7 separate regions of the Homo sapiens genome follow, and all the other regions are reported to be linked to region 6. The links are microRNA targets in miRTarBase. Many come from high-throughput screens and were not tested one by one. Region 6 holds a microRNA gene; each other region holds the end of a gene's coding sequence.
The links. Region 6 holds the annotated microRNA hsa-miR-6771-3p (CAAACCCCUGUCUACCCGCAG, at 1,494-1,514, shown strand). A microRNA usually pairs through its seed, bases 2 to 8, with sites in the 3' UTR of a target mRNA and lowers its output. Matches are read on the target gene's strand: a 7mer-m8 pairs with bases 2 to 8, a 7mer-A1 pairs with bases 2 to 7 and ends in A, and an 8mer does both.

Region 1 (4,624 bases), not on the chromosome of region 6:
AAATTGTTTGAAATGCTTGTTCTCCGGTGCCATAAAGAAATAGCACTTGAACATAAATTTATTTAGTAAGGCCATTTTTACTTCCTGCAGAAAGGGTACACTCAGCCAGCAGTTTTGGCACGAGAGTACACAACTAAGGAGATAGGGTCATTTATAACCTGACGCGTCCACCCTACTGCTATGTCCGGTTTCCACTGGCTGGGATGGGGCCTCACATTCTGTATTTGTCCCGATTGGCGAGCAACTTAGAATTTTTTTTTTTTTTTTGATGGAGTCTCACTCTGTCGCCCAGGCTGGAGTGCAGTGGCAGGTTCTCAGCTTACTGCAAGCTCCACCTCCCGGGTTCACGCCATTCTTCTGCTTCAGCCTCCCAAGTAGCTGGGACTACAGGCTCCCGCCACTATGCCTGGCTAATTTTTTGTATTTTTCCTAGAGACGGGGTTTCATGTGTTAGCCACATGGTCTTGATATCCTGACCTCGTTACCCGCCCGCTTTGGCCTCCCAAAGTGCTGGGATTACAGGCGTGAGCCACCACCCCCCACCACCGCCCAGCCAATTTAGAACCTTTTAAAAGAAGCAAAGGTAGATGAGAACAAAGGAAGGAGGAAGTAACTTGTGGAATGCTGAGAAAGGTGAAAACACTTTTAAATAAGGAAGAGGAACAGGCTATGACCTAATGCTTGCTTGGACCAGTATAAGCATGCCAAGGCAAATATTTAGGCTAAATTGTGGGAGCTAAGAACATAAAGTACGTTGATTTCTTTATGACGGCTAGCAGATATTTAAGAATGTTAGCACAGGTCTTTGAATAAATTTTGCTTATAAGAGAAGTTACCATTTATTCCTAATTAGGGAGGAAAGTCTTTGAAAAGGAACCTCTACTTTACTTTTTAGTTACTATGAGGATCACTATATCAATGTTTCTTAATTCATATGCTAAAGTGCACTCAATTTTTTTTTTTTTTTGAGACGGAGTCTCGCTCTGTCGCCCAGGCTGGAGTGCAGTGGTGCGATCGCCAATTGCCGCTCAATGCAAGCTCTGCCTCCTGGGTTCACGCCATTCTCCTGCCTCAGCCTCTGGAGTAGCTGAAACTACAGGCACCCACCACCACGCCTGGCTAATTTTTTGTATTTTCCCTATAGAAGGCGTTTCACCATGTTAGTCAGGATGATCTCGATCTCCCGACGTCGTGATCCACCTGCCTCGGCCTCCCAAAGTGCTGGGTTTACAGGCGTGAGCCACCACGCCCTGCCCTCAATTTCTTTTTTCACATTGACATCTATCTCAAAGGAAGAGCAACTTAACCAATGCCTTTGTGGTACACATCAGTGGCTACAACTTTCACAATTACAGCACAGATAAAAAAGGCATCTGAATAACAGCATAAACATGGCATCTGAGCTCCAAAATTTCATCTCCTTACAAGAAAGTGGTTATTTTCCAGTGACTGCAGGAATAGTTTCACACTGGGTACTGGCATTATCTCAGAATAAATGTTTTTGTTTTATTTTTTTTGAGACAGCGTCTAACTGTCGCCTAGGCTGGAGTGCAGTGGTGTGATCTCAGCTCACTGTAACCTCTGTTGCCTGGGTTCAAGTGATTCTCCTGCCTCAGCCTCCTGAGTAGCTGGGATTACAGGCATGTGCCACCACGCCTGGCTAATTTTTGTATTTTTAGTAGAGATGGCGTTTCACTATGTTGGCCAGGCTGGTCTCAAACTCCTGACCTCAAGTGATCCACCCACCTTGGCCTCCCAAAGTGCTGGGATTACAGGCGTGAGCCACCACGCCTGGCCTCAGAATCAATTACAGGCGCAGTGGCTCACGACTCAGGCCTGTAATCCCAGCACTTTGGGAGTCCAAGGCAGGCAGATCATTTGAGGCCAGGAGTCTGAGATGAACCTGGTAACACGGCAAAACCCCATCTCTTCTAAAAATCAAAAAACAGCCAGCATGGTGGCTCATGCATGTAATCCCAGCTATGTGGGAGGCTCAGGTGGGAGAATCGCTTGAACCTGGGAGGTAGAGGTTGCAATGAGCCAAAATCACGCCACTGCACTCCAACCTGGTCGACAGTCTTTAAAAAAAAAAAAAAAGCAGCCGCACGCGATGGCTCATGCCTGTAATGCTAGCACTATGGGAGGCCGAGATGGGCGGATCACAAGGTCAGGAGATCGAGACGATCCTGGCTAACACAGTGAAACCCTGTCTCTACTAAAAATACAAAAAATTAGCCAGGCGTGTTTGCGGGCGCCTGTAGTCCACAGGACTGGCTGAGGCAGGACAATGGCGTGAACCCGGAAGGCAGAGCTTGCAGTGACCTGAGATTGCCCCACTGCACTCCAGCCTGGGGGACAGAGTGAGACTCCACCTCAAAAAAAAAAACACAAAAAAACACAAGCAGCAACTCAAATATCCATAAACGGATGAATGAATATATAATGACATTTCATGGCAGACTATACTTCTCAGCAATATACAACAAATTAACTCATGTCTACATTGATATCAAAATAAGCATGATGCAGGAGAGCACCCAGGGATTATAAGAGGAAACACTTTATTACATCAGTCAGAAAATTCTAGAAAATGGAAAGTATTATACAGCAGAGTAAATCAATGGTTGTCTGCATAGAGAAAAACTTTATAAAGGCTCCAGGTGAATACAAAGGTGATAGATTAGATAAATTCATTATTGTGACTCTGATGATGGTTTCATGGGATTATAAGAAAATTCAAGCCAGGAGCAGTGGCTCACGCCTGCAATCCCAACACTTTGAGAGGCCAAGGCGGGCAGATCACGAGGTCAGGAGATTGAGAACTTCCTGGCTAACAGGGTGAAACCCCATCTCTACTAAAAATACAAAAAAGGTAGGAGTGGTGGTGGTTGCCTGTAGTCCCAGCTATTAGGGAGGCTGAGGCAGGAGAATGGCATGAACCCAGGAGGCAGGGCTTGCAGTGAGCCGAGATTATGCCACTGTACTCCAGCCTGGGTGACAGAGCGAGGCTGTCTCAAAAAAAAGAAAAAGAAAATTCAAGACTTATCCTACAGCTCAAATATGCATACTTTATTGGATGTCATTTATATATTTTATTTTTGAAACAGGGTCTCACTCTGTGGTCCAGACTGGACTGCAGTGTTGCAATCTCGGCTCACTGCAACCTCTGCCTCCCAGGCTCAAGCAAATCCTCCCATGTAGCAATCCTCCCACATGACAGCTCTCCTGTGAGTTATGCAGCCAGACTTCTGGATAAATATCCTGTATTTGTCACACTAGTAAGGCCTTCATTCAGTGTTAACTATAATCCTGAAGGAATACAGAGGTGTGGCTACAAAACTGCCCAAATTTATTTTACTTGTAAGGACTCTTCTCTAGTGTGAACTCTCCAATATCCAAGGAGAGCAGACCTTTGGGTAAACATTTTCCACATTTGCTGCAATCACAGGATCTTACTCAGGTGTGTATTCTCCAATATTTAATGAGACTGGACTCACTGCACTCATAAGCCCTTTCTTTTGTGAACTCTCTGATGATGACGAAGTGAAGAGATTTGCCTAAATTTTTTTTCACATTCACTGCACCCGTAAGGCTTTTCTCCAGTGTGAACTCTCCTGTGTTTAGTGAGACTGGAGCTTTCGGCAAAAGATTTCCCACATTCACTGCACTCATAAGGCTTCTGACCAGTGTGAACTCTCTTATGAACACGGAATGTAGAGCTGTGGGTAAATGACTTCCCACAATCACTGCATTCATATGGCCTTTCTCCAGTGTGAACTCTCTGGTGTGCAATGAGGTGGTACTTGTGCCTAAAAAATTTCTGACAAACCTCACACTCATATGGCTTCTCTCCAGTGTGAATTCTCTGGTGTACAAGGAGGTGGGACTTACTGTTAAATAATTTCCCACATATCCCACACGTATAAGGTTTTTCTCTAGTGTGAACTCCTTGATGATTACTGAAGCTGTCATATTTGCTAGAGGATTTCCCACATTCACACCACACAGAAGGTTCTTCTGTAGGGAGCAGTCTCTCGTGCTGACTGAGTATATCTTTGGTGCTAAAATGTTTCATGCATCCTCCACAGCTGTAATGGCTTTTTCCCCCATGAAACAGAGACACACACTCAGTTTTGCTGTTTGACTTCCCAGTGTGAGTGGCCTCTTGCTGGAGTAATCCTGACCTGAGCAAAAAGTCTTTCCCACTCTCACTGAAGACAGATGACTCCCCTGACACATGCAACTTACACCTCTTCGCAAACAACGCCTCCTCAACACTCCCTCTGTAGGGTTTCTCTCCAATGTGCTCATTCTGGTGCTGATGAAAGTTTCCACTGTCATACAATTTATTCCCCCAGGCCTCACACCTGTGCAGTTTCTGCTTGTGATGTGTTCCCTGATGATCTGCCACATGCAAAATGTCTCCCAAGATCGGGCCACACATCTCACAGGGGTGGGCCTTCTTGGGAGACACACCTGCCATAGGAGTCCTGACCTGAGTCTCTCTTTGTATATAAATACTCTGCTTAGAAGGTGCCGCCTCATCTTCCACTCCACACCAACAACCTGAAAGCAAGAAAATGCTGGTGAAGTGCATGTTAACTCTGGTGGGAAGGCACAGACC
Region 2 (4,690 bases), not on the chromosome of region 6:
AACACAGATAAGTTGAGATTTGGATGGTTTCCTAGGGTTCAAAAAATGCTATCTCCTTTTTCTTTTTCTTTTTTTTTTTTTTTTTGAGACAGGGTCTGTTGCCCAGGCTGGAGTGCAGTGGCATGATCTCGGCTCACTGGGGCCTGGACCTCCCAGGCTCAAGTGATCCTCCAGCTTCGGCCTCCAGAGCAGATGGGACTACAGGTGCATGCCACCACACCCAGCTAATTTTTGTGTTTTTTAGAGACAGGGTTTCAGCATGTTAACCCAGCTGGTCTCCAACTCGTAGCCTCAAGTAATCTGCCTGCCTCAGTTTCCCAAAGTGCTGAGAAACAGGACTAGCTGGATTTCCTTGGCTAAGAATTCCTAAGCCTAGCTGGGGAAGGTGACCTCACCCACCTTTAAACACAGGGCTAGTAACTCAGCTCACACCCAATCAGGTAGTAAAAAGGGCTCACTAAAATACAAATTAGGCTAAAAGTAGGCAGTAAAGAAATAGTCAAATCATATATCGCCTGAGAGCATGGGGAGGGGACAATGATCGGGATATAAACCCAGGCATTCGAACCGGATCGGGCAACCCCCTTTGGGTCCCCTCCCATTGTATGGGAGCTCTGTTTTCACTCTATTAAATCTTGCAGCTACACTTCTTGTCCGTGTTTGTTACGGCTCCAGCCGAGCCGTCCACCACTGCTGTTTGCTGCCGTTGCAGACCCACCATTGACTTCCACCCCTCCGGATCTGGCAGAGTGTCCACTGTGCTCCTGATCCAGCGAGGCGCCCATTGCTGCTCCTGATCAGGCTAAAGGCTCGCCATTGTTTCTGCATGACTAAGTGCCCAGGTTCATCCTAATCGAACTGAACACTAGTTGCTGGTTTCCACGGTTCTCTTCCGTGACCCACGGCTTCTAATAGAGCTTAACACTCACCACATGGCCCAAGGTTCCATTCCTTGGAATCCACTGAGGCCAAGAACCCCAGGTCAGAGAACAAAAGGCTTGCTGCCATCTTGGGTGTGGCCTGCCCCATCTTGGGAGCGGCCCACCACCATCTTGGGAGCTCTAAGAACAAAGACCTGCACGTAACAGTGCTGGGATTACAGGCTTGAGCCAGTGCACCCGGCCTACTTCCTTTTTCTAAAGTCCATCCTGGTGTATATGTATCCTAAACACCCAAATATGTAACCAAAGACTTTGTGAATGACCCTGCTCACCAAACAGCAACCTTGCAGGATCAGCAACTGCAGTTCTGACTGCGGCTGTCGCTGGTGTAAATAAAATGAAACAATGAGCAAAATAGCACAAATTTAAAACTAAACCATCAGTGTGCTAATCAAACTGAAAGTCTTCCTAAAAGAGCCAAACATTTTAACATAACCTTTCCCACTCTCATAGTTGTTAATGTTAGGGAGCAAAAACCAAACATCGATTGAAAAGGCAGTTTTAATTGGTTGCAGAAAATGAAAGGTTACTTCACTCAAAAAAGTAAAAAAAAACTCATTGTGGTAATTCAGAATTGGAAAATGTTTATTCCTGCAAATGATCGGTAAGCTTGCTCTGAATTCCCTGGAATCCCAGCATAGTCCCCAAATAGACAGGCTTGCCTCACCCCACAGAGGATACGACTCTGAAAAATTGAATATGAAGAAATACTGAATATGTCAAGTCATTCAAAATCCACAAGGAGGCCAGGCGTGGTGGCTCATGCCTGTAATCCCAGCACTTTGGGAGGCTGAGGTGGGTGGATCACTTGAGGTCAGTTCGAGACCAGCCTGGCCAACATGGTGATACCCTACTAAAAATACAAAAATTAGCTGGGCATGGTGGTGCATACCTGTAGTCCAGGTAGGAGAATTGCTGAACCCAGGAGGCAGAGGTTGCAGTGAGCTGAGATGGCACCACTGCACTCCAGCCTGGGCGACAGGACAAGACTCAAACAAAAAAAAAAGAAGAAAAAAAAATCCACAAGGGTTTTGAAGGACGGCTTTACTGGAAAAAAAATCCACAAGGGGAAATGGTTAATCAAAGAAACCACACAGTTGATGTATTTCCATGAATTCAAAGCCTTTTAATGATGTGAACACTTACTCCCCATTTCTTTTTTACATTGTTACAAAAAATTTACATACAGTTTTCTGAAAGTGGCATTTTGTTGGTTGTTATTATACTGATGACACATATTAACACTTTGTATTGAAGAAGTATCATAAAAATCACAGGGCATTACAGATTTTTGATAAGAAGTAGTAATAGCATTGTCTTTTAACAGCTGGAGGCTCCCAGGCATACTCTTTGGTGAGAAATGATTAATTTTATATTTTCATTTTGATGAGAATCTTTTCTTGTTTTTACCAGTTATAAAAACAAAGCTTTTTCTTTGTTGTGATACTGTGCACTAAGACTTAGTTTCTTGAGCTGATGCTAAATAAAATGAGATCAATAGGAATATTCCAGGAGGTCGTGAGAAGTTTTTAGAAAGGATGGCATCTACATATATATGGAGCTCTGAAAACTGTTGGAGAGTATGACCTGGGACTGAAACTGTGGAGCACATAGCCAGTGTCACAGGCTCCGAGAGCAGAGAGAGTTTGCTCTGGGACCTGGAATGAGTGATGGAGAAATGTTTTAAACAAACAAACAAACAGGCCAGGCACAGTGGTTCACATCTGTAATCCTAGCACTTTCGGAGGCCGAGGTGGGCAGATCGCTTTAGCTCAGGAATTTGAGATTAGCCTGGGCAACATGGCGAAACCCCATCTCTCTACAAAAACAAACAAAACAGGCCTGGCACGGTGGCTCAAGCCTGTAATCCCAGCACTTTGGGAGGTCGGGGCAGGCAGATCACTTGAGGTCGGGAGGTCAAGACCAGCCTGGGCAACATGGTGAAACCCCATGTCTACTAAAAATACAAAACTTAGCTGGGCGTGGGGCCACATGCTTTTGTAATCCCAGCTACTAACACTTGAATCCAGGAGGCAGAGGTTACAGTAAGCTGAGCTTGCACCACTGCACTCTAGACTCTGCATCTCAAACAAACAAAAAAACAATTGTGGGAAGGTTCCTAGGTTTACTGCACTCCAGTTTAATGCTTGTATAGTACTCACACTTATATCTCAAGACTTTTCAAGGGCTGACCCACCCGTTTTCTGCCACATGCAGTCAGCCCCAAGGCCTCATCTGTACCCAAAGGCCTGTGGACAATAACTGCCTCAGCAAAAAAAAAAAAAAAAAAAAACCTTGAAGCATCTGACAGAGGAAACGTACTCCAGAGCCACCGTGAGCTGCCCCTGTTCCTGACCACCAAGCCCAGCCTGGACAGCCTGCTTTCCCGCCCTGGCCTGAGGCTGGCTCAGTCCTGGATCTCTCCCCAGTCCTGCTTTCCCACTGGTGCCTCTAAGACCCCAGTGTGGAGTCTGCACCTCATCTCCTCAACACGAACAGATATTGGTCCTCAAACACAGAAACACACTCTTAGCTTGGTTTCTGCTCTATTTTGGTATTTCTACTTTTGAACTTTGTTCAGTGTTCCTTTCTAAAACCTAACCACTGGATCCAACCCAGGGTTGTAGAGTGTCCATTCTGAGTCTGCTATTTCCCCAAGTGTCCCCTCAGCAGGCAGCAGGCTCTGCTTTATCCTGGTGGGGGATGGGTGCGCCATCTTCTCCAGCTACAAGACAGCAGAGTGGGTCTCCTGGAGGTTCTCCTCCAGCTTCAGCCCCAGGTTGTCAATCCCAATGCTGGTGACTGGAGGCACGCTGCTTTCAGCCGGCTCGGCCGTGCGAGTAGGGGTGGAGCAGTACAGGATAAACCCCACCATGATGACAGTGAAGGACAGGATGTAGAGTCCTGAAAACTAGAAGGGAAGAACAGGCAGTGAATTGTGCCCCTCACATACACATCTTTGCTGCTGGCTTTTGCCAACTGTGCTTCGAGGATTACCCTCTCATAATCTTTTTATTTTCTTTCTTTCTTTCTTTCTTTCTTTTTAAGACAGGGTCTCGCTCTGTGGCCCAGGCTGGAGTGCAGTGGCACAATCTCGGCTCACTGCAACCTCCACCTCCCAGGCTCCAGTGATCCTCCCGCCTCAACCTCCAGAGTAGCTGACACCACAGGCACTCACCACCACACCCGGCCAATTTTTGTGTTTTCTGTAGAGACGGGGTTTTTCCATGTTGCCCAGGATGGTCTCGAACACCTGAGCTCAAGCAATCCGCCCGCCTCAGGCTCCCAAAGTGCGGGGGATTACAGGCGTGGGCCGCCATGCCTGGCCTCATGATCTTTTTTCTGAAAGTTACCTAAGGAGATGCTAATGCACAAAACCTTCCCATGTATGCTGGTGAATGATGGGACTCTGCCAACAGCACCCGGCACATAAGCCACCTGGATCCTTGGATCTTTAGGAGAAATGGACCTTTGCTTTTCTCTGTCATAATCCAGCTACACCCCACTCTGCATATAGTCCCACTTAGTGGAGAAAATAAAAGGTCATCATGGATACCACAGAGAGCCCCATTCAGACCCTAGACACTGCTTACAATATTGGTATGAAGCAGAGGAACGTAAGACTATGATGAAATGTGGAAGTACAGAAGGGGCATCTGCTCAACAGCCTCTCAATGTGTGCTATTCAATGAAATTCATTTTGCTAAAATTTAATACATTATCTTGTCTCTGTGGGCAAGTATTACATA
Region 3 (4,000 bases), not on the chromosome of region 6:
GCAATGTCCAACAGATCAGGCAGACTCCTGTTTTTGGAAGCACCCTAAGGAATTCACATTCATGGCAGTGGGATTGGAAGTTGAAAAAGAGGCCTCCCGGGGCTGACTGCTCAGCACTGCGTCTCCCTCAGCCAGGGCTGGACGCAGCTGTGTGGGTGGTGTGTACACGCCAGGCACCTGTGCACCCCACTCTTGCACTTGTGCTTTCATTTTGAAAACCGGAGGCGATGGGAAGCGGGGGAGGGACAGGATTTCGATTTTTCTTTTAAAAAATCTTAAAAAGTTTTTGGTTGAAAACAAGTGACAGTCACATTTCAAGAAAATTTTTAAAACCTTTTCTTTTTGAAAAATGAAAAACATCTAATTAACTAGTCCCGCGATACCCAAAGTCAATAGTCACACATCTTTCCATACACACACACACACACACACACACACACACACACACACACAAAAAAAAAAAAAAAAAAAAAAAAAAAAAAAAAAAAAAAAAAAAAAAAAAAAAAAACCATGCCCAGGAGTACTCAGATTTCTTTCAGCTGCTGACACCCACAGAACAGAAGCCTGGGCCAGGGGCACCATGCCAAAAGGGCGTGTGAGCGGGGGTTGCATAGGGTGGAGACCTGCAGAATGGAGCTGCTTTGTCTTCTTCCAAAGCCTTTTTCAAGGAGGCAAACAGTGACAACTTTGGGGGTTGGGTGTCCAATATAGTTAATGCCACGTTTCCTTGCTCAGGGCCCTGTCATCAGGCTACTCAGCCCTGCGAGGGGAGGTGACATTCCTCTTTTCAGACCGGATCCCTCCTGGTACAAATATAGCTGCACACCGGCTATTGTTTCAGATAAGCAATGAGAAAAGGCAACGTGCACACATAGATACACACACACACACACACACACACACACATAGAAGTCCAAAAACAGCAAAAATGTAGCCACGAAAGAGTCAGCATTGTATCAAATCCACCTCCATACAAACACAGAGTTTGAAAAGATATGTACAGGGCATTCATAAAATCCAAGTGTGCATCGCAAGGAGTGATGCCTGCTGTGTGCTGTACAGTCTTTTTTCTACAATGTGCTGCAGAAACCATCCCAGAGACCGTGGTGCAACCCCACCTGGCAGAACACCATGAAGCATCTGAACCGAACATCACAGGCCTTAAGCAACCTCCTGTGACTCTTCCCACGGCCTGTCCTCAGCCCCTGAAGGACACATGTTGCCCTCCATGGGCCAGGCCTTGGGCCTCTTCCTGCTCTCTCCCATTACCACCCAGCTGCAACTCAGATGCCAAAGGCAGCGGGCATTTCTTGGCAAACTCCCTTTGGCTCTGATCAGTGGAGCTCATGCCTGGCTCTGTGCTAACTGAGTAGACATATTGGGATAAGTTTCTTCTCACCTGCTCCCAGGTCACACTCTGGCACCTACTTGAAGAAATACTGGGAGAGCCAGGGCTAGCCCCGAGCTTCAGGCTTCCCCAGGTCCCCCAACATGGAAAAAGCAGGGGCCTCTTAAGCCAAAAACCCCTTTGTGATGAAGGGCAGGAGTGCAATGCTGAAGGCCCAGGGGAGGGAAAGACAAGGAAACGAAAGGTAGAATGTCACCTGCATTCACCAGCATCTCTGGCATCAGGGAGCTCTGGAAAGGGAGGACGAGAGGATGGAAAGGGTCAACTGACGGGAGATTGACTCTCCAAGTGGAGACTCAACATCAGAGGCATATGAGGGCCTCAGCTAAGACTGCTCCCTTATAACCTACACCTTTCTAGAAGACTCTTCCTAAGGCAAACCTCGCTGGCTCCCCGGCAATTCAAGCACTTCGCAGGCATTTGCTCAGTCAGCCTCCAACGGGCCTGTGAGGTAGGGGGAAGGATGGAAAACCCCAGCCACAGGGTGGAGTGGTCCAAGCTGGTGGCCTCACTGGGGTAGGGACACAAGCCTTCTAACTGGAAGCACGTCCCAGGGCAAGTCCTCAGGGCTAGAGCAGCCTCCAGAAGTCCTCTGTGGCCTGAAGGCAGGGCTGCATTCAAGGAAATGAGTCCCAATGTCTGCCTTAGAGAGATATTTTGACAGAAAAAAGCTTGTCAGCTCAGTGGATTTTAAATTGCTGTGGTTGCCAATAGACGCAGGCCATGCATTCTTGCACCACACAAAAATTTGCTACAATTTTTAAAGCACCACAGAGGAGAAATGGTTTGGTGTTGAGGTCAGGAGGATGGAGACGGAAGTAGGGGGAGGTGGTATCAACAGTGTCTAGCATGGTCACTGACAGTTAAAGGGCAGGTGCCTTCTGCCCCACTGCTGTCCAAAGCCTCACTGAAAACAGACTGGCACCTGGCAACAGCAGAGCAAACCCCATATGGGCCTTCAACCCCAGGCCACGGGCTTCTCCACAAATAAATGTTTTAAAAGGGACACTTTAGGATCTTCTCCTGAGATGCGCACCATCGTTAAGGAGAAATCCTCAATCTGAAGTTCAATTTCAATGCACCATTCGCAAAAAGTAGGCTCATGCCAGTGGGTAGTGGTTTGAACACAGCTGGTCCACATGTCTGGAGAGACAAGCACACTAGAAACTGAATGGCAGAGTCCACGTGGGCCCCTTGGTCAATGTGGAAGAGGAAACTCTGCCACCCAGCCCTCTGGCCCTCATCCTTCACACACCCTGTCCTCCTTCCAGGAGTGTGGGGACAGGTTTTAGGGGAGGCGGACATCACAGATCCATGTGATAAATTTCCCTTGGCCTCCTATGAACGGCCCGGGTGCTAGAGTTTTGTTCTATTGTGTTAATTATTTATTTGTCATGATTTTTTCATTTTGTTTTTGCTCAGTCCTTGTCCCTGTCCTCCAAATGTAAGCAAGGACAGAAATCACAGAACTGTGGAGGGTAAGGGGTGCTGAAAGGCTGGCTTCCTTCCCTTACCCCTGAGGCCCAGAGCTCTAGACACAGGCAGGCCTCCAGCCAGTCCCACAGCCCCCAGGCCAGGCCTGTGGACATTCTGGCCACAATCAACTCAATGGGGTTATTCCTTTGGCATAAGAGAAGCCAGTTCCTGATGGAAAGACAGGATGTTGGAGGCTTGGGGGTCATCCCAAAGAGTTGGGCACTTTGGCCTTTGGCTCTTCCCGGGGGCTTCGACTCATGCGTGGTCCCTACCCCCACCCTCCCCACCTGTCTCTGACAACTGACTTCCTAAAACTCCACAGTTAGGGAATTATTTGGCAACAAGGAGGCTAAGGCTGTTTTGTGGTGGCACAGTCTTTAAAAAGTTAAAAAGAAAATAGGAGACCTCGGAAAGAGGCGTTCATCCAGGACAGGGCACAAACGTCCCACTACTTGTCAGCGCCAGGGTTGGCGGCCACTATCTCCTCGTACTTTGGGGGTGGGTCACTGTAAGACACGCTGGCCTCCTCACTGCTGCTCTCTTGGGGCGCAGTCACCTCCTCGTAGGAGGGGGGAGGGGTGGTGCTGGACAGTCTGGAGAGAGAGAGCTCAGGGAGGTAGAGGGTGCTCTCTAGCCGGACTGTGGTCCTGCCCCCCCGACTGGGCCCCAGCACCACCTGGGGGCTGTTCGCTGCCTCTCGGTGCCCAGAAGGCTCCCCTTGGCTATGCACAGTACCCCGGTACACCATGACCCGGGGGAGGGTGTGCCCGGCGCGACTGGCTAGGTACCGGTTCTGAGCATAGGAGGGGTGGTGACGGGTCGCTTTCTGCAGCTGGCACCTCCAGATGATGAACAAGGCGATGACAATCAGCAGTGCCACCCCCAGAAGGGGTACCACCACATACATGGCATCTGAGCTCTGCGAGGGGTCTCGGACAGAGTAGACTGCATTTGGGTACCCTTTCCAGAACTCCATCTGCAAAAGAAAAAGTGGTACTTAAGAGAAGCTCAAGCTCCAGGTGGGCTCAGAGGCCTTCAGTAACTCTGGTGCTTCCTACCCTTCCCCATCTGACTTGTCTCACAGAGTTACCAGAGAGGCAGCAGAATGTACCAAGG
Region 4 (4,579 bases), not on the chromosome of region 6:
TTGAACCTGGGAGGCGGAGGTTGCAGTGAGCCGAGATCACGCCACTGCACTCCAGCCTGGTGACAGAGCGAGACTCCATCTCAAGAAGAAAAAAAAACCATGGGCCCCAGATACAGCAATATTCAAAGGAAATCTTGTAGCCTTAAATGCTTCCAATTTAAAAGAGACTGAAAATATATTAACCAAGCACATGTACTCAACAGAAATACACACAAATAAAAAGAAAATAGTGAAATATATTTTTGAAATAGAAAAAGCAAACAAAAATAGTCAAAAGCATGAAGAAAACCCAGATAAGGTTTTTTTTAAAAAAAAAACAAGTAAAATGAATGGGACTCCTTCAAATCAATTTAGAGGAATAAAGTGGTTTAAAAATAAAACTATGAGTAGAAATACAAATATATATACAGAGACTGAAAACTGAAAGCCAATTCTGTTTGCCAATATCAACGAATTTGAAAATCTAAAGAAAAGGAACCATTAAAATCATTGATGAAGTAGTTTATCAGTTCTAAAATGCACTTTTTACCCCGCATTTTAATGTCTCTGAAAGTGGGTTTCAATATATATCTCCAACAGATTAATCTGCAGGACTTTAAAAATTAGTTTCATATTTAAAGTGATGTATTTTATATGTAGCATCTTAAGATTTCATGTTACTTTAGTCTGTTTTTAATGATTCCTATTCCATTCTTTTTAAAAATTAAAAAATCTAATTACCTCAAATTAAAAAGACATAAAATATACTAATGCTGATATATTTTCATCTTTTGCTCTTTCCAATGCAAAATGTGATTGAATGCCAGAATATTCACTCAAGGGACCTGACTGGGGGGTATAAAAGAGACTTTGGCTACAGGGTTTTTTTCCCCAGCCTTCCTAGATATAGTTTTTGCTTTATATCCCTTATATAATACCCATTTCTATGCCACTTTGAGTCAGTTCTGGTGATTAAAATCCTTTTACTAAAATGTTCAATTTTCAAAATAATTATTAAAAGGTTACATGTAATCGTAATAAACATAAGCTGAGTATCCCTCAAAATGCTTGGGACCAGAAGTGTTTTGGATTTTGGAATATTTGCATTATATTTACCAGGTGAGCATACTTAATCCAGAAGTCTGAAATTATCTTTGAGCATAATGTTGAGCTCAAAAAGTTTTGGAATTTGGAGCATTTCAGATATTGAATTTTCAAATTAAGCATGCTCAACCTGTAATCTGTAAAGTCTCTAGAGTAATGTCGCTTTTGCATTCATGTTCATATACCTTTATTTATGAGAACTGCTACTATTTTTGTTTTCAAAACATTAGGTTGTGATTGATCTAGCTTTTTTTATTCTAAAATTATTTTTCCCTCCCATTATCCTTAGGGTTTTTGTTGTAGTTATTCTTTCTCCAGCTTCTTGGGTTATATGCTTGGTTTCTTTATTTATAATTTCTTTAACATTCTAACAAATGAATGAATTTAGAGCTATAAAATTTCCTCTGTATATTACAGGTCCTCACAGGTTTTGCTATGTAATCTATTCAGTGCCACTTATTTAAAAAATAATGTATTTGATTTTAGTTAATTTACTCATTTATTTTTAGAGACAGGATCTTATTCTGTTTTCCAGGCTGGAGTGCAGTGGCACAATAATAGTGCACTGAGGCCTTGAATTCCTGGGCTCAACTGATCCTCCCACCTCAGCCTCTGGTAGCTGGAGGCCACCATGCCTGGCTCATTTTTAAAACTTTTATTGTAGAGATGGGGGCTTGCTATGTTACCCAGGCTGGTCTCAAACTCCAGGCTTCCAGCAATCCTCCTGCCTCAGCCTCCCAAAGTGCTGAGATTTCAGGCAAGAGTTACTGTGCCTGCCTGCATTTTATTTTTAAGCAAAGAATCATGCAGATGAGTACTGAATTAATATTTGGATTTCAATGGAGAAAACTGCTAGTTTTTTTACTTCTACCCTGGTACAAATTTTATAGTGTATTTGTCTTCTCACACTTTATAATCTTATTATTTTTTCTGTAGGACAATTTTTTATTTATTTATTTTTATTTTGTTCTGAGACAGAGCCTTGCTCTGTCACCCAGGTTGGAGTTCAGTGGTGCAATCTTGGTTCACTGCAACCTCCACAGGTTCAAGCAATCCTTATGCCTCAGACTCCCGAGTAGCTGGAACTACAGGCACACGCCACCATGCCTGGCTAATTTTTGTATTTTTAATAGAGATGGGGTTTCACCATGTTGGCTAGGCTCCTGGCCTCAAGTGATCCACCCACCTTGGCCTCCCAAAGTGCTGAAATTACAGGTGTGAGCCACTGTGCCTGGCAGCAAATATTCTTATTCAACAAGGAAAGAATGTCAATCAAATTTTCCCTACATTCATTTAAATGAATGTCTTTCTCCATTATGAGGTCTTTGTTGTTGAGTAAGGTATGGATCATGGCTAAAAGTTTTTCTAGAAATAATAAAGATGAAGCTTGAGAAGATAATAGTGATGGGTAACATTCACTAAGCATTTATTATGTGATAGGCACAATTATAGAATCCACACAATAAGGCTCTGAGGTATTGATTCTACCCACATTACCATAGGTATGTTACAGATGCATATAAAAGGATCTGGAAGAATAAGTAAATTGGTTAACATTGGAAAGGAACTGAGGCCAGGAATGCTGCTCAAAGGAAAGGCCGGCTTTATCTGTAATGTAAAAATCTTTTATATGCAAAAGCAATTGATACATTATCTCTGAAATGAACAATAAATAAATAAATCAGACACACTGAAAAGGGGCCATCAAGGTAAGTGTTTATAATGGCAAAATTTTTAATATTTGACAAAATTGGGGTTTGATAAAGACAGGTGAATACTATAAAGCCAATAAAATGGTAACAACATATTTACAGACAAAAAATATTAAGGGCTGGTTATAGTATAGCATAATCACACCTTGTTTCCAAAACAATGAGAGATAGTATTAAAGGATTTGCTCCAAAAGTTTGACAGTGATTATCTATGATTGGTAAGATTACAGGTAACCATATCCTTTTTTTCTTTTTATCTACATTATGATGAGGGAAAGCTGTTTTGCTAAAATGGAGAGTATAATTTTATAAAAGGAAAGTAAACAATCTTCTAAAACAAAAGGTACAGGTATTAAAGGATACTTAAAAGTAACAGTTATTGACCATAAACAGGATGAGACATAGATACATATATATAAATTTAAAAAACAAACACTGGGCCAGGCATGGTGGCTCATGCCTGTAATTCCAGCACGTTGGGAGGCCGAGGCAGATGGATCACGAGGTCAAGAGATCGAGACCATCCTGGCCAACGTGGTGAAACCCCATCTCTAATGAAAATACAAAAAATTAGCTGGGCGTGGTGGCGGGCGCCTGTAGTCCCAGCTACTGGGGAGCTGAGGCAGGAAAATCACTTGAACTCGGGAGGTGGAGGTTGCAGTGAACCGAGATTGCACCACTGCACTCCAGCCTGGTGACAGTGAGACTCCATCTCAAAAAAACAAAAACAAAAACAAAAACAAAAAAACACTGACCTGATATCCAAGCTTTATGTGAATAAAAATGTAACTTACCATCAAATAGTCAATAAAAAAAATATGAAAATGGACAAGGTTATTGAATAAATGGTGTTAGGATAATCAGGAAAGAAAAAAAGGATAAATTTAGACTTGCAATAAATAAAATAATTTTTCAATGAATCAGTAATTCTGTATAATACAAAAAAAAAAGACCATTGAAAAAATATAGTAGGATTAACCCAGAAATGAGTTTTCCAATGTTTAAAGTTGAGGCAAAATATAATAAATGATTTTTTTTTCATTTTTAACATTCACAAGTAAGAATTTTCCAAAAGTAATGAAGGAATGAATATAGATAAGGATCTTCAAATATTTATTTTATTTGGGGTGATTTTTTTCCTGTATAAATATTCTTAGACTGACTAACCTGTGAAGCATAAGTAAGGCATTTGTACCTTAGTTCTATTTGTAGAGATTTTCACCACTATGAATTTTCTTAAGTCATATGTTTAGAGTCCTTCCTTCAGCACATAATTTCAATTTATAGTTTCCAATTCGCAGAGTTTCTTACCATTATGACTTTTCTTATGTTGCTGAAACTCTGAATCCCTCCCATAAGCCTTCCCACAGTTCTTACATTCATAAAGTTTCTCACCTGTATGAATTCTCTGATGCTGAGTAAGGCTTGAGCCACTATAAAAAGCCTTCCCACACTCCTTACATTCATAGGGTTTCTCACCAGTGTGTATTCTCTGGTGCCGATTAAGAGCTGAACCACTACTAAAGGACTTTCCACATTCTTTACATTCATAGGGTCTTTCACCAGTATGGATTAGCTGGTGTTGGATAAGTTTTGAGCCACTACCAAAGGCCTTCCCACATTCCTTACATTCATAGGGTTTCTCACCAGTATGAATTCTGTGATGTTGAGTAAGGTCTGAACCACTACTAAAGGTCTTCCCACATTCCTTACATTCATAAGGTTTCTCTCCAGTATGCATTCTTTGATGCTGAATAAGTTTTGAACCACTTCTAAAGGCTTTC
Region 5 (4,569 bases), not on the chromosome of region 6:
CATAACCAGGATTTGAACTCTGGTTAGCCTTCTCACCCCAAAGTCCATTACACTGCCTCAATAAATGTCTTTTACATACATATATTTACTAATAAGATTGTGTAATGACATTTCATTAATAAAAACGAGTGGGGTTTCAAAACAGATTGCTTTATGTCAGGTTGCTTTACGTCATAAAGCAAAACAGATTGCTTTATGTTTCCAAAACATATTTCATGGAGCATTAGTATGCCCAGAGATATGAATACGTATTCCTCAGAAATAACGAAAGAGGTAATGGAAGTAACTCTCCACAAGTAGAATGTGTGCTCCACTACACAGCCTGTCTCTGTTGGAGATTTAGAAAATAAATGGGTAAGATGAAGGACTTCAGAAGTCATGAAATAATAAAATCTGCTTATCTTTACTTAACTAAGCACATCTCACACTCTTATAACCACAGAATCCTTATTAAAACCATCTATGGGCTGGGTGCAGTGGCTCACGCCTATAATCCCGACACTTTGGGAGGCCGAGGGTGATTGCTTTAGCCCGGGAGTTCAAGACTAGCCTGGGCAACATAGCAAGACTCTGTCTCTACAAAAAATACAAAATAAAAAAAAAAGCCAGGCATGGTGGCATGCACCTGTTTGGGAGGCTGATGTGAGAGGATGGCTTCAACCTGGGAGGTGGAGGCAGTGAACCAATATCACACCACTGTACTCCAGCCTGGACATCAGAGTGAGATTCTGGCAAGAAGAAGAAGATAAAGACAAAGAAGAAGACAAAGACGAAGAAGAAGAAGGAGGAGGAGGAGGAGAAGGGGAAGAAGGAGGAAGAGGAGAGGGAGAAGGAAAAGGAAGAGAAGGAGGAGGAGAAGAAAGAGAAGGAGGAAAAGGAGGAGAAGAAGAGAAAAAGAAAAATTGTATTAGTCTGTTCTCACACTGCTAATAAAGACATACCCAAGAATAGGTAATTTATAAAGGAAAGAGGTTTAATGGACTCACAGTTCCTCATGGCTGGGGAGACCTCACAATCATGGCGGAAGGCAAATGAGGAGCCAAGTCATGTCTTACATGGCAGCAGGCAAGAGAGCTTGTGCAGGGGAAGTCCCATTTATAAAACTATCAGATCGCGTGAGACTCATTAATTACACCATGAGAACAGCATGGGGAAAACCACCCCCGTGATTCAATTATCTCCACCTGGCCCTGCCCTTGACACATAGGGATTATTACAATTCAAGGTGAGATTTGGGTAGGGGCACAGCCAAACCATATCAAAAATCAAACAATACTTAAAATAAAGAATAATGCCATTATTTTCACTTAAGTTGAGGCATGAAAAATTAAACATGCCTGTATTTAAATTAAGGAAAACAAAAGGATAACAGTAAATATGCAGCGTCTGTGTGTTCATCACAGTGATGGTGTTAACCAGGCCACAGGCTTGGTGAGACACATTTTTTCTCTGCTACAGGGACAAGCCTGCCAAGCAGATGGCACAGACATAGACAGACCAGTCTCCCCAGGTGCCTGAGAGAAACATGGCTAAGTTCTTACAATCCCATTACCCATTTTTCTTGACTATTATCAACCTACCCACACATTATTTTATCATGTTTTTCACCAACAAGGGAAAAGCCTGTTTTCTTCTATACTACATTCACATAATATTTCTGACACCAAATGTGTGGAGTTTTTTTCCCCATCCCAACCAATTTTCCAATTCTCTAGACACCAACAGAGTATCCTATATTTAATTGAATTCTGACACTAAATACCTAGAGTTGATGCAGACCCCACAGATTTAAGGGCTCAGTCCCATAAAACCATCCCCAACTTCAAACACCAGTCACAACTAGCAGGTCCCCAGGTTGCCCATACTTCTGTCCAACATGGCTACACATGGGGGTTCCCACAACCCCCTCCTCAGGTTTGATAATTTGATACGGCAATACAGAACTCAGGGAAATGCTTTACTTGTGTTTAACAGTTTATTTTAAGGCTACTACAAAGGATACAGATGAACAACAGCCACATGAAGGGGTACCTGGGGCAAGGTCCAGAAGCATCCTGAGCACAGGACTTGCTGACTTCATAAAGCTGGAGTGCGTCACCTTCCTGGCACATCAAAATGTTTGCCAACCCTGAAGCTCCCTGAACTCCATAGTTAACGGATTATGTCTTGTTGACATAGGCCTGATGGATTATTGACACAAATCTCCAGCCCCTCTCCCCTCTCTGGAGGTGGGAGACTGAAAGTTTGAAACTTCCAATCATGATGTGGTCTTTGTGAGCAGCCCCCATCCTGAGTTATCCAGGTGCCCATCAAGAGTGACCTCATTAGAACAAAAAATTCTCCTATCACTGGGAAATTTAAAGGAATTTAGGAGCTTTGTGTCAGGAACTGGGGTCAAAGACCAAATACTAGAACAAAAGATGTACTCCATCACTTTGGAAATTACAAGGGTTTTAGGAGCTCTGAACAAGGAACTAGATAGGAAGATCAAATATATATTTCTTATTATATCACATTATCACATCAACTCAATGTACATTTATTACACTTTCATTACAGGTTGAAGTTTACAGACTGGTGTACACTAAATGCATTTCAGGTAAGCTGCTCCCTAAGGACCTATACGAAAGCCCAATAATCAGATGATAAACTGTCTCCAAATCCAGCTTCCAGGAAGTTTACCTATAGACTGAAATGCCATCGATGGAATTTAGACACTAGTGATCTTTAAGTCCAAAGGGCCTGGGTATCCTAACCTCATCAGCTTGATCTTTTTCTTCCAATATCACATCTGTACCCAGTCTTTTTTTCTTTTTTTCTGAGATGGAGTCTCGCTCTGTTGCCCAGACTGGAGTGCAGTGGCACGATCTCGGCTCACTGCAACCTCCACCTCCTAGGTTCAAGCAATTCTCCTGAGTAGCTGGGACTACAGGCGCATGCCGATCTGTACCCAATCTTATTAGGGTCTGCAGCATTGTTCACTCAACACAAAAACTGGACATGAGCATTTTTTAGTTCCATTATGTGCCTAGTACAGAGGCGTATTCAGCAGGTAGTTAAATATTTGGTGAGAGGAGGTGAATCTTGAAAATATATAAGTTGGCCGGGCGCGGTGGCTCACGCCTGTAATCCCAGCACTTTGGGAGGCCGAGGTGGGCGGATCATGAGGTCAGGAGATCGAGACCATCCTGGCTAACACGGTGAAACCCCATCTCTACTAAAAATACAAAAAATTAGCTGGGCGTGGTGGCAGGTGCCTGTAGTCCCAGCTACTCAGGAGGCTGAGGCAGGAGGATGGCGTGAACCTGGGAGGCAGAGTTTGCAGTGAGCCGAGATAGCGCCGCTGCAGTCCGGCCTGGGTGAAAGAGCGAGACTGTCTCAAAAAAAAAAAAAAAGAAAAAGAAAAAAACAAGAAATAAGCTTTATCCAAAAAAGTTTTATTTTTATAAGAAACAAGAATAGGTCAGGTGTGGTGGCTCAAGCCTGTAATCCCAGCACTTTGGGAGGCTGAGGAGGGTGGATTGTTTGAGCTCAGGAGCTCAAGACCAGCCTAGGCAACATGGTGAAACCCCATCTCTCCAAAAAATACAAAAATTAGCCAGGCATGGTGGCGCACGCTTGTAGTCCCAGCCATTCAGGGGGCTGAGGTGGGAGGATCACTTGAGCCTGGGAGGTTGAGGCTGCAGTGAGCCATGTTTGCGCCACTGCACTCTAGCCTGCGTGACAAAGCAAGCCCCTGGGTGACAAAGCAAGATCCTGTCTCAAAAAAAAAAAAAAGGAAACAAAAAAGATTAAAAGTTAAAAAAATTATATATAAGAAAATTATAGAAATAGCCTCTATACTCTATACCCTGTTGGTATGTTCAAAAGTTCACAAGGGACTCAGGTTATAACATAACGAGTAAGTCCTCCCCCTCGGACCTCTGATAGCCTCCGGCAGTGTCGTAAAATATTCAGTAACACGTGAAACTTCTTGTCAGCTTTCAAAGTTGTGAACTCCTTTATGTCAGCTTCCACTATAAAATAACGACCTAAAAATAAAGATATTAGTGCTAATTTTTATAAGGCCAACTTGCAAAAGAGTCTTTAATACATTAAGTTGTGAATATGAATGGTATTAGTCGTTTTTACTGTTAGTATCCAATAAAACCAAGAACTAGTATTCTTGCTAAAATAATAATTATTCTATCAACAGAAGTTGCATGCATGATATTTATTAGGTCACTAGCTATCTGTTGGTATCGCTTGAACAATTCACTTTTCAAGAGGCAATGTGACATAGTGGTTATAAGAATAAAACCCGTAACAGTGTTATCATTTAACTGGATGACCTTGGACAAGTAAGTTAAGCTCTCTTTGCCTAGTCTACAAATTGGGAGTAATAACAGTAAGTGATACGGGTGTTGTAAGGATTGAAGCTCTTGGCACACTCTCTGCCATACAGTAAGTAGCTATATCAACAGGACTAGCTATTATCATTACTATTCAATTTCCTAAAACATTGGGCATAGTTTCACAATAGACTCTAAAGCAATGTTTCTCAGGCTCAGCACTACAGACACTGTGAGC
Region 6 (4,690 bases):
GAGAGGCTGTCACCAAGCGGTAGCACACTCTGACCAGTGGGCCTGGGTCCTATGACAGCTCCTGTGGCTGGGGCAGGGTGGGGTGAGGCCCAAGGAAACCATGTGGACTGAAGGGGAGGGAGAGGGCAGCACTCCCAGAGGGGTGGACGCAGGACCAGCCGGTGGGGATGGTGGGGCAGCTCTGGGGGTGGAGGGAGGGCGGGTGGGGCCGCATTGCTGGAGGCAGCTGGTGAGAGGGTGCCTCAGCCTCCCGGTAATCATTTCTGCTGAGCGAGAACCACGTGGCAGGGGCACCAGGTGGGGGCTCCCTGGATCACGCGGGGCATGGAGCCTCCCACCTAGGGTGGCCACAGGCAGTGGATCAGCACAGGAAACCATGAACCTTGTGGCCGGGCCCACCCTAGAAACACATTATGGCTTTTCTTGTTCCCTTGTATGTCTGCCCACGCAGGGGGTGGCGAGGGAGCCAACCTAAGGATACGCACTGGGTGGGCTGCTGTGGTGCAGGGTTCCGGGGGCTGTACGGCCTGGGGCAGCATCTTGGGGCACCGGGCTCACCAGGCTGCATCCACAGGTGCCCTTCTTCCTGTTCATTGTCTTCGTGGTGTACACACTACTGCCCTTCAGCATGCGGGGCGCTGTCGCCGTTGGGGCCGTCTCCACTGCCTCCCACCTCCTGGTGCTCGGTTCTTTGATGGGAGGCTTCACGACACCCAGTGTCCGGGTGGGGCTGCAGGTGAGGGATGGGCTAAGGCCTCTGGGGGAGGTTTTGTGGTCTGGGTCTAAGGGCAGATGGGGGGGCCCCCTCTGGGTGAATCAGACCCGAAGGCCCCGGAGCCGTGTTTGCAGACAGCCCGCTCCAAGGCCGGGCCCTCTCCACGTCTGCTCGGAAGCTGGGCTCCAGGCGTGGCCCTGCCCTCTGGCCTTTGCTTTGCTGGCCTAGGGCTCCCCTGTGGCTCAGCCCTCAGGGTCGTGACCTCAGGCCTTGCCTCCCGGTTCAGGGACACTGTCGTGGGGTGAGTCCCATTGCCGAAGTTTCCCCTCGAAGGCCCTGTCCTGGCGGGGCTTGGGGGAGTACCCCAGGGCACTGCCTTGTGTCTTTGTGTTGAATGAGTGAATCTTCTGTTCATAATTATTGGGTGTTTAGAGAAGTGTTTTCCCTCTGACCAGGCCTGGTGTCCTCTCCAGGCAGAGGCTGGCCCTCCACACAGCCAGCTGGGCGCTGTGCCCTCTGGGACTGCCCTTAGCACGCATGCCCCTCGGGCCCTGGGCTCTGTGAGGTGGTCTCTTCTGCCTCCCTGGGTGTCCTGGTCTTGCAGTCCTAGTGACTCACTAGGAGACTAGCTCCTGTCTGGGCCTCAGTTTCCCTGTCTGCCCCAGGAAGAGTGCCATTCTCAGTGGGTTGAAGGTCAGGGAATGGGAAGAGGTGCCATCACTAGTCCGCCTAGGGGTCTGGTGCCTCGGGAGGGCATGGGCCAGGCCACATAATGAGCCAAACCCCTGTCTACCCGCAGCTGCTGGCCAACGCAGTCATCTTCCTGTGTGGGAACCTGACAGGCGCCTTCCACAAGCACCAAATGCAGGATGCATCCCGGGACCTCTTCACCTACACTGTGAAGTGCATCCAGATCCGCCGGAAGCTGCGCATCGAGAAGCGCCAGCAGGTGGGACCCGGCCCCCACTCCTCACCCTGTACACCCCTGTCCTCTTCCTCTTTCTGTTGGACATGAGACACTCATGCTGCCATGTGCATGAGGTGCATGGCCAGACACCCATGCAGGTCTCACCTCGGTGAGTCCTGGGCTCCAGCAGGGTAACCATAGCCTGCTGACCCTTGACTCTGCCTTCCTCTGTGTGGTTTCAGTCCTGGGCACGCAGTCCCCAGGTGGCGGCAGAGAAGGCCGTAGTGGCTCCAGGCTGCTCACCCATCAGCTTAGCCTCCCCAGCTGAAAGAGCCCTTTCTCAGTCACCCTGAGTCCCGGGGGCTGCTGGGTACATGGGAGGTAGATGCTCAGTTGGGTTGGTGGAGGACAAGAGCAGAGATGGGGACATTGTGGGCAGGGCAGGCAGGCAGGGAGGATGGGGGCCAAGGAGGCCAGGTCTGGGACCTGATGCTACCCTGCCTGTCCCCCGCTGGTCCCTCCGCCGGTCGCTTTGCTGGTCCCTCTGCTGGTCTGCCCACCCACACCCAGGAGAACCTGCTGCTGTCAGTGCTTCCGGCCCACATCTCCATGGGCATGAAGCTGGCCATCATCGAACGGCTCAAGGAGCATGGTGACCGTCGCTGCATGCCTGACAACAACTTCCACAGCCTCTACGTCAAGAGGCACCAGAATGTCAGGTGGGCGGTGAGACGTGTGATTAGCATATCCCGGGGACTGGGCCCACCGTTCCACCGGCCCCCAGGCGGCCTCCCCGCCCTATCTGGAGGCTCAGACCCCTGCCCATATAGGGATTGGGAGAGGGCCCCATGGTTCCAGGTCAATCTGGGGCCCTCCCTGGGTCTCAGAACCCCCACTTGTGGGCAGGATCAGATCAGGGCTCTTAAATTAGAGAATTTAGATTGGTATTGAAAGATCTAGCACACCCCCAAAACTGTAAAACTGTGTGAGCAAACATAGCTTTTGTGAAGGAAGGGGTCCTTTCAGATGGTTCTCAAGGGAGCACAGGACCCCCAGAATGAGGTAAAGCCCCCCGGCCTTGGTGCCCAAGAGTGCCCCGGTTCTGACACCTGTCTTTGGCTGATTTGCAGGGAACCACAAAATTTTACTTGAATGCACTGACCTGAGTTTGTCAAGTGTCGATGTGGGTGCTGGGTGCCGTTGAGTGTAGATGTGGGTCCCAGGAGACCCCCTGGGTCCTCTGCCTGCAGCGCCAGCATTACATCCAAGGCTGGCCCGCTGCCTTTTCTCTGGGCTGTGGATGGTCCATGAGCTTAAGGACTTTGGAGCAGGGAGAACTGGTGCAGATGCCAGCTCTTGGCTTCCCAGCAAGTCTCAATGTCCTGGAGCCTCAGTTTGTGCATCTGTAGAACGGGAGTTCGGCAAGGGCTGTGTGAGGACTCGATGCCTGTAAAGTGCTGGGTGTGGAGGTTGGCTTGAGGGAGCATGGAGCTGCCTCTCACCAGGGAGTTCTGAAGTCTGTGCTGTGGTGAACATTGGATGGGAAAGGGGAAGGCTCCGGGCTGCCTGCAGGAGTGCCCTTCGGCTGTCTGCAGTGATAGGGCCTGGGGTGGGGCCGAGGGCTCCTGTAGGCTCTGAATTTTGCTCCCTTCTGCTTTAACGTGAAGCCCCTGGAACTTTAATCTGTCTCTATGGCTGGGCGCGACTCTCCCATCCCTATGGAGGCTGAGGAAGGACGGGGGTGAATGGGCTCAGGCCTGGCAGGCTCCTGGGGCTCCAGACAGTCCTGCGTGCTCCTGCTGCTGCTGTCTAGGAGCCTGGCTCTGACACTCCCTCCCACCCTGCCCCATCCCCAGCATCCTCTATGCGGACATCGTGGGCTTCACGCAGCTGGCCAGCGACTGTTCTCCCAAGGAGCTGGTGGTGGTGCTGAATGAGCTCTTTGGCAAGTTCGACCAGATCGCCAAGGTGAGCCCGCTGGCCTACAATGGGCAAAGCCAGGCCCCTCCCCTGCCTATTACACCCCAGGGGTGTCCTGTGTTCAGTGCCCTGCTGGAATTGGGATGGGGAGGCGTGGCTGAATTTTAGCATCCAGCCAGCAAACACAAGCGCCCCATGGTAAAGGTGGGGGTGAGTGGTGGCCACGGCAGCCAGGATCCTGTGCCCCCAGAGTGACAGGCCAGTGGGGAGACTGACAGTGCACACTGGGCGATATACTGGGGCTCTGGAGCTCAGATGGGGGCTCAGGAGGAGGAGATGGCTCCATCCTCACTGGCAAGGCTAGCAGCCTCCACTCACCTGGTAGCTCAGGAGGACTGTGGAATGCCCAGCCTCACCCAGAAGCTGCTTTTCACAGGATCTGAGGTGAATCATGTGCACATTAAACTTTTACGTTTTGTTTGTTTGTTTTTGTGAGATGGAGTCTCATTCTGTCATGAAGGCTGGAGTGCAGTGGTGCCATCACTGCTCACTGCAGCCTCGACCTGCCAGGCTCAAGTGATTCTCATGCCTCAGCCTCCTGAGTAGCTGGGACTACAGGCATGCACCACCACGCCTGGCTAATTTTTTTTTTTTTTTTTTTTTTTTTTTTTTGTAGCAATGGGGTTTCGCCATGTAGGCCAGGCTGGTCTCGAACTCCTGACCTCAAGTGATCATCCCCTCTTGGCCTCCCAAGTGCTGGGATTACAGCCGTGGGCCACCACTCCTGGCCCACCTTAAAGTCTGAGATACTTGAAAAAATATCTGAGGAGGAAAGGGAACAGTGTTCTTAGCAGGGGGAACAGCATAGACAAAGCCTGGAGTAGAAAGAAAGCCCCGTGTGTCCATGGGGTGAACGTGCTCAGTGTGCGTGTGAGGTGTGAGGGGGACAAGGGCACAAGGTCTGACATGCAAGGACATGAGGGCTGAGGCGAGGACCAGGATGCTGAGGAGCTCGACACGTGCCAGGCAGGGAGGGGGTAAGGCAAGCAACATTTCCATTAATGGACCAAATGGTCCTGAGAGAGGGTAAGTGCCAGGCCCTGAGTCTGGGTGGGGCCTTGGGCCTACATGGTATGTGCTTTGAAGAA
Region 7 (4,690 bases), not on the chromosome of region 6:
CCAATTTTTGTGTTTTTAGTAGACTGGGTTTCGCCGTGTTGGACAGGCTGGTCTCGAACTCCTGACCTCAGGTGTTCCACCTGCCTCGGCCTCCCAAAGTGCTGGGATGACAGGCTTGGGCCACTGTGCCTGGCCATATTATGTATATTTTTAAAAAATTTATGTAGGGTGACTATTCTAGGGGGTAAGAATTTTCATTAATGATGGGGTCATTTAAGTGGCAGTGGGAAATGTGTAGTCCATACTTTAATGAAAAAGGATTGTTAGTGATATTAAGGCAAAAAGACTAAAAGGGCAGTACTTCTGTTTTTGCTTTTGGGAACTATAAAGGGCTCCATATGTTTTATTTTGGGAGATTTTTAGATGAGGAGGATATCGTCTCTGTCCAGAGGTTCAGTCCTGTAAGGATGAGGTAAGGTTGGTGGTAACTCAGTAACTTAATGAGAAGAAACTTGGCAGAGAAAACTAGCATTTAGGAGCAATGCCGTCTTTACCCTCTGCCCAATGCTACCTTATTTAACCTTACTTCATTTAAAAAATATATTGTTTTCCTCACTAGGCACAACACTTTCACTGGGCGATGGCTGACCAGGTTCCAAGCCATGTGGGATCCTAAACAAGAAGACTGTGTCATAGTTGGCAGCATGGCCCATCCACGACGGGTAGAAATCTTCCATGAGACAGGAAAGAGGGTGCATTCGTTTGGTGGAGAATACCTTGTCTCTGTGTGTTCCATCAATGCCATGCACCCAACTCGGTATATTTTGGCTGGAGGTAATTCCAGCGGGAAGATACATGTTTTTATGAATGAAAAAAGCTGCTGAGTTTTTGGTTTAGGAACATCAATTTGTTCAAATTGACCACTGTCTAAGGAGCCTAGTAATCGGCGTGCCTTAGTGTGTTTATGTGGTAATGTGTTACATTTAGCAATTATAACATTGTTTTATTAATAAGACTATAAGAAGAGTGTACTTTTAGTAAGGGAGAAGTCTTGGAGGGTTGCTTCTGCAGGACGGGGAGGGAATTTGAGGGGAGGCTGAGGTGCCGTCAGGACTTTTTTTTTTTTTTTTTTTTTGAGATGGAGTTTTGCTCTTGTTGCCCAGGCTGGAGTGCAATAGCGCGATCTTGGCTCACCGCAACCTCCGCCTCCCAGGTTCAAGCGATTCTCCTGCCTCAGACTCCTAAGTAGCTGGGATTACAGGCACCTGCCACCACGCCTGGCTATTTTTTTGTATTTTTAGTAGAGATGGGGTTTCATCATGTTGGCCAGGCTGGTCTCGAGCTCCTGACCTCAGGTGATCTGCCCGCCTCGGCCTCCAAAAGTGCTGGAATTACAGGCGTGAGCCACCATGCCTGGCCATCAGAACTTGTAATCAAGACAGTATGTTGAGAAATTCTAACATTATAAATTACAAAGCTTTGACTATTAAAGTTTTTGTGATCTAATGATACAGTTTTGATTCTATAGTAATTTGTGGCTTATTTTATAGTTTATAATGAATACTTATTTCTAGACTCATACACTGGAAGGGGACCCGGAAAGGTAATGTAACTCAGTGATTTTAAAACTTGATTTTTTTAACTGAGAACTTTTTTTGCCCCCTGCCTGTAGGTTAAGTCTTACGTGAAATGCCAAGATAATTGCTGAGCAGCTTTGGTTACCCAGGGCGGGGTCTGGGTCTGTCTGTACTTTGCCTTTACTCTAGATGGCTCCTGAGACACAGGCAGGACTCCCAAGCACCGGGTTGGGATCTGCCCTGGTCCCGGCATTCCAGTATAAGATTGCCTCAGACCTGTGTTTTTCAGACTGGGTTTTTGCTCTTCACATGAAATCAAGTTAGATGACAATGACTGGTGTTGAAAAAAATGAAAAGGAAAGAATTTGTAAAGAACAGAAAATATATTTGAGTAAGTATTGTTTGGTAAAACTTAGTTACATATGCATATATATTTGTTAGGTATATATGTTTATGTGTATTCTGATGTAAAATATATATATATATATATTTTATTACTATAGTACCATGGGTAATGGATAAAGAAGTTAAAGCTACTGCTTAGAATGAAGAAGGCCCCAGGCTTACCTGTCCCGATCTTTAAACTGTCCGAAGGAAATTCAATAGCCTGTTAAGTGAATACCTTCATTCTTACTTGTATTTGGGGGAATATTATGAAATACTCACCACTTTTGGTATTTTATGAAAATGTTTTCTTTTCAGAAGTTATGGTAATTTCAATGTGTTTGTTGTTGGGAGGGGAGCTGCCAAATCAGTTACTAATATTACTGTGTGACATCTATCCAACTTTTTTCATTATTCTTCATTGCCAAATACTGAAAGACTTGTAAATGGCTTTGGCAATATGTTTGAATTCTAAGAGGAAATATTTTCCCATAATTGTATATCAGAGAAATATAGTGATATACAATTTCCTTGAAAACCAATTTCTAAATAATTTTCTTCTCTGTAATCTAAGTGTAAAAAGGTTTAGTTTTTTAATAGGTTTAGGTGTTTATAAGCAATAGTTCTCTATTTTCTAGTTGATATAAGTAGAAGAATTGACAAGTGAGATGGAAATGTTAATTTATAAAGGGAAAGAAAAGCTAGGTGAGGTTGAGTTATAATTAAACTGTTCAGGAAACATCGTAAAGGCTTTAGGCTCCCTTTTTCATTTCTATACCAATTAATCTCATGGGTTCTAGAGTGGTTAGTTCTACGGGAATTGTTTTTGTTTTTGTTTTTAAAGATGCTGAAAACTACTCTCAATCAAATTAGTACCATCATTTAAGCTTTGAATACTTGGCAGTAATTGCCTGGGCTCGTCAATAAATGTTAGCAAATTCTTGATGTTCCTCACTTTTGTGGTTTCTTTTGCCATTGTGGCTTCATAAACAGTGCTATTTATATTCAGTTATACTTTATAGAGTTATATCTTCAGGCAGTGCAGGAAGGAAGGAGAATGAGTAGGGACTTTTTTTTTTTTTTATTGGTGATAAGCTTTCTAATGGAGTAATTGTTTAAATCTAGACAGCACATAAAAGAAAATTGTCTCCCTTGGGACATTCTTACACTGTAATCTGTAGTGAAAGGTACTTCTCCCACAGACTTGCCTACAGCTGTGTGGCTTCTGTAATTATGTGTGTATTATGATTGCCTCCTTCGGGATAAGCCTTTTCTGTAAGTTTGGCCTTTATGATATCTCTTAAGCTCTGAATTCCGCTTGAGTTTTTTTTTTTTTTTTTTTTTAAGATACCCAGGCTTTTGTTATGTAACTTTTAAGGAAGGAGCAGACAATTCTCATTTTTGGTTGTCAGAGACTTTGTCAGACTAGGAGAGACCACAAATGATTAGGAATTAATAGAATCTGAGTTGCTTAAGTCCTATTTTAGTATTCTGGTCTTTGAGCTTCCTTTCCACCAAGAAGATTTTGCAAGGGGAGTTCTCCAGGAAAACAGGGAGCCTTAGGGCTATGGATACAAGGATTTAAATCCTTTCAGCTAATGTACAGTACATGGGGTAGGGTGGGGGAGAAGACACACATGCCTTCTGAATCAATCTGAGAAGAGGAAATATATGCCCTCTAACTTCAGATTCCAAAAACTTCAATGTCCTATTGGGCGGTCCTTTCTGACTTAGTACATTTCCCCCTGCTTTTTAGTAGGGTGTTGATGGCTAGAAATAACAAGACAGCAGATTGTATTTTGACTTATTTGGCTGTAAATACTTGGATTTTCAAATGAAAAGGTAGAATTTATGAGGAAGATAACATTTAGTACACTTACACGGAGCTGAAGAACAAAACATTTTATGATACATTTTCCCCAAAATGGAAACTGGGCAAGAGGAAATTTATTAAAAGGGTGCTTTGCTTGTTTTACTCCATTCCATCAGCAGGTCGTAGGGGTCTGAAGAGGAAGCCTGTTCATGAGCTAAAACCAAAAGTGTGTTCAGGTGCAGAGGAGCTAGATTGTGCTAGAGGAACCCAAAGCAGAGGGAGTAGGGACTAGAGTCCTACAGGGGTGTGTGCACAGGTAGTTCTTGATAAGCTGTCAGCAGAAGGGAGGCTGCTGTGAATCGGCAGGGCCACGGGAAGCCACCCAGGTCCAGTGTTTCTTGTGCTTTTTACTCTTTGGATCACTTCAAGCAAAATCTTATGTCATAAAAACAAAAAATTCCGCTGGGGATAGGGTGCTAGATAGCATTTTTTAGGTAGTGGGTACCTCTGAAATTTGGAGGTAACATAGCCTGATTGGTGTTTAGGAGGATGATCTGGCAACAGAAATGGGAGAGTGGAGGGCAGGCAGAATTGAAAAGACAAAGATTAGGTAAGAAGCTAGCACAGTGGACCAAGCCCCCATTATCACCTCTTATCCTCATGGAATTTAGAAGACCATTTCCAATTCCGTAGCCACAGAGTGATGGTTACATAATCAGATGAGATAATGCTATAGGGATATATTTTGTAAATATGTGGTGGTGGTATCATTGTAGTTCCTTCTTAGAAAGTATTTTCTGTGCTCCCACTTACTCCAGGCTTGAGTAAGAACAGCAGACCAGAAGGTGGACAATCTGGGTTCTAGTTTGGACTCTACCACTATGTAATCTTGGGAAAATCACTTAGTCTTCTTGGTTTTCCTCATCAGAAAAATACCCAATTCACTTTAAAATTATTACATATATAGCTTCTCAGT

Region 1: miRTarBase lists ZNF552 as a target of hsa-miR-6771-3p. Seed matches in the 3' UTR shown: 7mer-m8 at 2,842-2,848.
Region 2: the mRNA of SLC35F2 is a reported target of hsa-miR-6771-3p. Seed matches in the 3' UTR shown: 7mer-m8 at 2,885-2,891 and 7mer-m8 at 2,748-2,754.
Region 3: miRTarBase lists PRRG3 as a target of hsa-miR-6771-3p. Seed matches in the 3' UTR shown: 7mer-m8 at 2,350-2,356, 7mer-m8 at 1,877-1,883 and 7mer-m8 at 1,521-1,527.
Region 4: miRTarBase lists ZNF345 as a target of hsa-miR-6771-3p. Seed matches in the 3' UTR shown: 7mer-m8 at 3,336-3,342.
Region 5: the mRNA of SKA1 is a reported target of hsa-miR-6771-3p. Seed matches in the 3' UTR shown: 7mer-m8 at 3,566-3,572 and 7mer-m8 at 3,204-3,210.
Region 7: the mRNA of WDR76 is a reported target of hsa-miR-6771-3p. Seed matches in the 3' UTR shown: 7mer-m8 at 1,249-1,255.

What each region holds. Positions count from the first base shown.
Region 1 is chr19:57,804,538-57,809,161 of GRCh38, forward strand. It overlaps ZNF552 (zinc finger protein 552), which reads right to left. Exons shown (of 3, transcript NM_024762.3): 3 at 2,545-4,566. The coding sequence ends at 3,503. Among named protein-coding and RNA genes, the nearest start is that of ZNF552, 8.1 kb to the right of the region's middle.
Region 2 is chr11:107,788,949-107,793,638 of GRCh38, forward strand. SLC35F2 (solute carrier family 35 member F2) reads right to left here. Exons shown (of 8, transcript NM_017515.5): 8 at 2,043-3,852. The coding sequence ends at 3,667. Among named protein-coding and RNA genes, the nearest start is that of SLC35F2, 67 kb to the right of the region's middle. RefSeq lists a silencer at 1,627-1,836.
Region 3 is chrX:151,700,366-151,704,365 of GRCh38, reverse strand. It overlaps PRRG3 (proline rich and Gla domain 3), which reads right to left. Exons shown (of 4, transcript NM_001372163.1): 4 at 1-3,860. The coding sequence ends at 3,333. Among named protein-coding and RNA genes, the nearest start is that of PRRG3, 6.9 kb to the right of the region's middle.
Region 4 is chr19:36,877,790-36,882,368 of GRCh38, reverse strand. It overlaps ZNF345 (zinc finger protein 345), which reads right to left. Exons shown (of 3, transcript NM_001242472.2): 3 at 2,794-4,579. The coding sequence ends at 4,072. Among named protein-coding and RNA genes, the nearest start is that of ZNF345, 29 kb to the right of the region's middle. RefSeq lists an enhancer at 3,738-4,579.
Region 5 is chr18:50,391,561-50,396,129 of GRCh38, reverse strand. SKA1 (spindle and kinetochore associated complex subunit 1) reads right to left here. Exons shown (of 7, transcript NM_145060.4): 7 at 1,962-4,031. The coding sequence ends at 3,883. Among named protein-coding and RNA genes, the nearest start is that of SKA1, 19 kb to the right of the region's middle.
Region 6 is chr16:50,291,162-50,295,851 of GRCh38, forward strand. It overlaps MIR6771 (microRNA 6771), which reads left to right and starts at 1,455; the gene lies at 1,455-1,514. It overlaps ADCY7 (adenylate cyclase 7), which reads left to right. Exons shown (of 26, transcript NM_001114.5): 4 at 575-736; 5 at 1,515-1,664; 6 at 2,193-2,341; 7 at 3,479-3,590.
Region 7 is chr15:43,865,569-43,870,258 of GRCh38, forward strand. WDR76 (WD repeat domain 76) reads left to right here. Exons shown (of 13, transcript NM_024908.4): 13 at 560-2,844. The coding sequence ends at 824. Among named protein-coding and RNA genes, the nearest start is that of WDR76, 41 kb to the left of the region's middle.